2 separate regions of the Homo sapiens genome follow, and region 1 is linked to region 2. Evidence: fine-mapped expression QTL. A gene starts in region 2. The other region holds a variant in brackets. All regions are shown on one strand. Distances are between the middles of the regions.

What was found. PIP is the estimated chance that this variant, and not a neighbour inherited with it, causes the effect.
Region 1: its variant is fine-mapped to the expression of PDPR in lymphoblastoid cells (GEUVADIS, PIP 0.95).

What each region holds. Positions count from the first base shown.
Region 1 is chr16:70,160,283-70,163,191 of GRCh38, forward strand. PDPR (pyruvate dehydrogenase phosphatase regulatory subunit) reads left to right here. Exons shown (of 19, transcript NM_017990.5): 19 at 1-2,255. All of the region lies in intron 1 of LOC400541 (a long non-coding RNA gene), which reads right to left. Among named protein-coding and RNA genes, the nearest start is that of CLEC18C, 12 kb to the right of the region's middle. The variant C/T (reference allele first, on the strand shown) is at 1,373.
Region 2 is chr16:70,112,890-70,115,798 of GRCh38, forward strand. PDPR (pyruvate dehydrogenase phosphatase regulatory subunit) reads left to right here and starts at 1,443. Exons shown (of 19, transcript NM_017990.5): 1 at 1,443-1,551; 2 at 1,932-2,041. RefSeq lists enhancers at 1,407-1,456, 1,977-2,909.

The DNA.
Region 1 (2,909 bases), 47 kb after region 2:
GAAGCCAGAAAAGCTCTCATTCAGGAACTCTGAAGAGCAAAAAGGGACAAACACTAACTGCTGAGCTGGGCCATTTGATCTCCTTTCACCTTGCATTGCTGTCACAGCACCTTGTATGATGGCAGGACAGGCTCCAGCAGAGAGAACTGCACAGTGACCACTGTATTTTTCACGCTCTTCCAGGGATCCCTGTCCCCCGACATTGAAGAGATCTCATTCAGGCCAGAGACACAGAGACCACATAGCCCAGTGATTAAACCCCGGTTTCACTCTGGCCCCAGGAGTGGAGCCTGGCCACTCCTGTTTGGTTCTCACTGGGAGGCCCACTGGCCTTGGATCATCTCCTCATGCACACCCGGAGTTTTACCTGCTTGCTTGCTTTCCTGGACTGCTGTTTGCAAGAAAGTAACTAAAACATGAAAAGTAAACCTCCAGCTTCCACAGTATATTACCTGCCGTTGCATGCATTTGAAAGTTAGCCTCCTCCCTTGCCACCGTCTTGGTGGCAGTAGCGATGCAAGAATGATGGGAGCTTTCCGAGAGCGTTCAGTGTTTCACTGAAGACAGGACCCATAGCCTTCATTTCTGGCTCTGTGTCTCCTCTGGCATATGGACACATTTCCTGGCATTTGCCTGAGTCTACACCACTTTTTGAGAACCTGAAATAGAAGGGAATCTTCTGTGGCCCACAGTCTCCATATTGGCACTAGAAGACTGGCCTGGCGGAGGAATTTGCGTTGGCTTGCTTTCAGGGGTTAGCTACAAGATTCAGCTTTATATCTCTGTTGCTTCTTGGCCAGTGTAGTCAATAAGGGTCTTCTTTAACATCTAAGATAGAGGTTTGGTTGGCCGGGCGTGGTCGCTTACTCCTGTAATCCCAGCACTTTGGGAGGCCCAGTGAGGTGGGAGAATTGCTTGAACCCAGGAGGCAGAGGTTGCAGTGAGCTGAGATTGCACCACTGCACTCCAGCCTGGGTAACAGAGTGAGACTCTTGTCTCAAAAAAAAAAAAAAAAAAATCTAAGATAGAGGTTTGGTCAACAGTGCTTAATAATAAATAAGAACCTCCTGCCATTCTAATTTTCCTGCTGCACCCCATCCCCCACACACCCCTCACGAACATTGATATAAGCAGTATTAACACAGTATAAAGAATGTTCACCTTGCATATGTCATTTCAGGCACATGGATTCAGGAGAAGCACAGTTGAGTGGAAGAAATGGTAGACTTGTGAGGCTTGCCCCAGGCCTTGTGTACACGCAATAAGTGGTGAGCCATGGGTCTCTCCGTCAGCGCCTCCCTCCCCGCCACCACTTCAGGCCAACAATTTAAGGTGCTGAGTTGTAAGGCTCCTCCATTGTCAGTACAGGGCT[C/T]GCCTTTGTAGCCCTGATCACTACCAGTACACTTTTCAAGACAACTGAGTATTTTTGTATGCCTTTGCCTTCCCTTTGTCCATGAAACATGAAGAGTTGTTTATGGTTCTTGACTTCTCTGAGCAGAGTGTCTGCATCTCTTGGAGAGTTACACATTTCTTCATGAGCCATTTTTCTCATTCTTAGATGCACCTGTTTTTATCCTTTGCAGACCATCTTCTGCCTTCTTATTTTCCTGTCTGTCAAAGACAGAAATTACAGGAGATAGGGAGGGTTTTTTAGCATCTCTTTCAAAAGATGTATGTCAGAATTTCCTTTGCACACCAAGAACTGGAGCTTAGAGCCCCACTATTCTCTAAGCCAGGTTCTAGTGCCTTACACTCCAGAATGTCAGATGGTGGGTGCAGATTGGAAGAAAGAGAAAAGTTCATCTCGGTGTGTGGGTTCCCATCCGCCCCACATAGCCTCTCCTTCTTCGGAACAATGGGCGTGGGGTAGAAAGCTCTTTCAGTGAAGGGTGTTCTAGCAGCTCAGTTAACACTTTACTCTCCAGTCAACACTTGGGACATATAAAAATGCCATTGTAACTACTGTAGAGTCCTGTGACTCATCGTTTGTGTTTGTCAATTTGCAGTTCAGCTTAGCCCTTCCCTGTTCCTGTGTAGTTACAATCTGGCCCTGAAGACATCCGAGGCACTTCAGTAAGTGGGATCTTTTCTAGAGATCCTGGGTGACTTTGGGTGCACAGGGTGACCGAGCATTTCTGCCCCTGTGAATGTGGCACTAACACTGTGCACTGTCTCCACCAAGCAAGGTTTCCACTGAGTTTCTTCTCATGTTACTGGGTTTGTAAATGAATAAACACATTTTAACTACTCTTGCACGGCTGCTTGTGAAATGTTCTTCATCTGTAGTGACTTAAATGTGTTTGCCACCACAAAGCATAAACAGCGTGCAGAGGAGAGTGTGTACCTCCCTGTGTGTACCAGTGTGAGGGAGGATTTGGGGACGGGGGTAGAGAAGATGTAGGTGTTTATCTTACCCTCCCTGCAGCGCTGGAGTGGCTGGGGGTAAAAGCTTCCCGCCTCCTGAAATTCCGACCGGCCTTCTGCCTACAGCTGACCTCAGGAGGAACCTGCCACCTGATGTTCCACACGGGCACGTGTGCACTCAGGTTTGTGTGGAAAGCAAGGGGGGTCGTGTTCTCACCCTGTGGAAACAACCCTGAGAGAAACAACCAGTGCTCTTTTTCTACACCAGCTTCCATCCACAAGTTGGTCCCTGGACTTGACCTGTTCACTAATTTTTTTTTTTGAGGCAGAGTCTTGCTCTTTTGCCCAGGCTGGAGTACAGTGGTGTGATCTTGGCTTACTGCAACCTCCACTCCCAGGTTCAAGTGATTTCCTGCCTTAGCCTCCAGAGTAGCTGGGATTACAGGCACGCGCCACCATGCCCAGCTAATTTTTGTATTTTCGTAGAGACGGGGTTTCGCCAGGTTGGCCAGGCTGGTCTCAAACCCCCAACCTCAAGTGATCCA
Region 2 (2,909 bases):
GAGAATGTCTCAAATTGGTCAGCCGTTTTCTCTTTTTTTAGACAGGTAGGTGTCCCCAAGCATTCAATCCTAGCTAAAATATGGAAGTATTTATCTAGCACAGGAGCCTATGGCATAGTTTCAGTCCACTGTCTGGCAGACCTCATCTGGGCTGTCTTTGTGTGATTTGACTGGCCAGTAAATGGGGTATAAACTATGTAGGCTGTGGCCTGGCCTTGTGACAGAGGGGTCCCTGGAACTTGACTGCCACTCCCTAAGAGCAGAAACCGCCTCTTTCTTGTACATTGCTGGATCCCATCATCCTGCACAGTGCCTGGCTACAGGTGGCCAGCAATAAAACACAAGATTGGGGCAGGCACAGTGGCTCACGCCTGTAATCCCAGGACTTTGGGAGGCTGAGATGGAAGGATCACTTGAGGCCAGGAGTTCAGGCCCAGCCTAGGCAACATAGTGAGCCTATCTCTACAAAAAAAAAATTTTTTTTAAATTAATAAAACACAAGATTGGTTTGTGTGGTGAGACAGTATTGAATCCAACAAACGGGAACTGGATAGTGTGGCCCAAGATGCAATGGTGGCTGCAGCATGAGACCCTTATGCATATAATATTCAGTGGAAGAGGTGCCAGGCACTGTTCTGGGTGCTGAGAATAAAGCTATGCATAAGACTAAGGTTCTGTCGACAGAGATCGTGTCACACCAGTGGAAAAGACAGTCATCAAACTTATATCCTTGAGTCAGTGATGAGTTCTAGAAGGAAAGAAAAGGCTGATGTGACAGTGAGGAAGGGATGAGTGGAGACTTCTCTGAGACTTCAGTGATTCCTCTTCCTCTGAGCTGAGCCAAGCTGAGAAGCTGAGAAGAGTAAGATAGGGCCGGGAACTCAGGTCCGTTAGTCCGTCCTCCGAGGTGGGGCGGGCCAGCAGAATGGATTTCCGATCTACTCTGTGAGAGCCTCGCCCAAGAAAGCCCAGAGCCACTTCCAAGATCCGCGCTCCCACGGCGATGAGAAGCGTTTTCCCCCGGGACTGCTTGGCTTAGGACTGGGGACCCACTGGCTTTGGAGTAAGCCCTGGCACGGGCCTCGAGGGAAGAAAGAACTCCCGCGCTCCCCACACTCCACAGGGCCTGCGATCATCTCAGATGTTCCGGTTCCACGTGCAGAAACCCCGCCGGTCCGAGGCCCCGGTTCTAAAACGGCCCTAAGAGTCAAGGCTTCCACAGCTCGCCTCTGAGGGTGGCAAAGAGGCCGCGGGGGCGGTGCCTCGCGAGACCCAAACAAGCCCACGTGGCAGGGGCGGGGCTCCGCGAAGGCGTCACGGCGCGCTCGTGCGCTGCTGAGGTCACGCGCCGGCAGTACCCTTGCCCGGGGGCCGTAAAGCGCGGAAGGTCGCGGTCTCGGCTTCCCCGGAACTTTTTGCTCGCTTCGCCCCGCCCCCTTCCCATCCCCGAACCCCGCTTTCCGGCCCGCGGCGACCCCAGGCAACTGTTGTGGCTGCCGCATTGCTCCCGCCGGGCTGTAGCTGAGCGCGGAGCCCGTGGGGACCGGTGAGGTAAGGAGATAGCTTCGGGGCAACTCTGGCCTCCCCGTCCGCGCGGGCCTAAGCGCCCCGGGACCCCTGGGTTCCCCTCTTTCTCCTTTGGTTTCGCCCGGGGGTGGTCCCCGCTAGCTCACGCTTCCAGTGGGTTCCGCCTGGCCTCTCGCGAAGTCGCGTCCGGGCGCCAGTACTCGTCCCCGTAAGGTTGTCCGCTCGTGCCTTGGCTTGTGTTCTCGGCTACCCCTGGGCGTGCGCACCGCTCCTCCAGGAGCCTGCACTTCAGCCCCGATGCCAGGGCGGCCGGGGTGACCTCGGGCTCCCCCGTCTCGGGCTTGCACACCCCTGCGGCGCAGAGCCAACTCCAGCTTGTCTAGCCCGGTCCTCCATCCCTGCAGATGGAACTGTTTTCCCGCGTTGAGACGTGCGGTCCGCTTGTGCTTTTAGAACTAAAGACTGCTGCAGAGTCCGGAGGAAGAAGTCACCTAGAAAAATCTGGGACAGGGCAGTAAGCTTCCTTCTTAATGTTTGACCTTTGGGGGCCGATGTGTGATACCTCGGATTTGAATCAAGAATCTCCAAGCCCATTTTCCGCATGCATGTAAACGTGATGTACCGGGATGGGGTCTGGTGGTGGAGGAGGAGCCAGCCTGACGGATAAGCTTTTCCAGTGGCAGGGACTTGTGTTAATTTCTTTTTTCTTTTTTTTTCTTTTTTCCGAGACAGAGTTTCACTCTGTCGCCCAGGCGGGAGTGCAGTGGCGCGATCTCGGCTCACTGCAACCTCTGCCTCCTGGGTTCAAGCAATTCTCCTGCCTCAGCCTCCCAAGTAGCTGGGAATACAGGTGTGCGCCACCACGCCCGGCTAATTTTTGTGTTTTTAGTAGAGACGGGGTTTCACTATGTTGGCCAGGCTGGTCTCGAACTCCTGACCTCGTGATTCTCCCGCCTCAGCCTCCCAAAGTGCTGGGATTACAGGCGTGAGCCACTGCGCTCGGCCAACTTGTGTTAATTTCTTAAACTTGCGTGATCACCTGGTGTACTTGTTGAAAAATACAGCTCCCTGGAGTGGCAGGATCAGAATCTGCCGAGGTGGACCGTGGGAATCTGTCATTTTTAAACAAGTGTCCCAGGTGGTTCTTTTGCTGAGGCAAGTGTGGGAAATGTTGTGTGAACCCACGCTCATCCAGTCTTCCTTGTGACCGGCAGTCCACTGTGCGCAACGCTGCAGCCATACAGAGGGACAACTCGAAGTTAGAACTAGCACCTTGGTCTTGTTGGAATAAGCAGATCTGAGTAGAGCCAGCTGCAGTCTTATGGTTGTTTAGCAGAAGTTATTCTTCTTAGCAGAGAATATTATACGGTCATTTTCCAGAA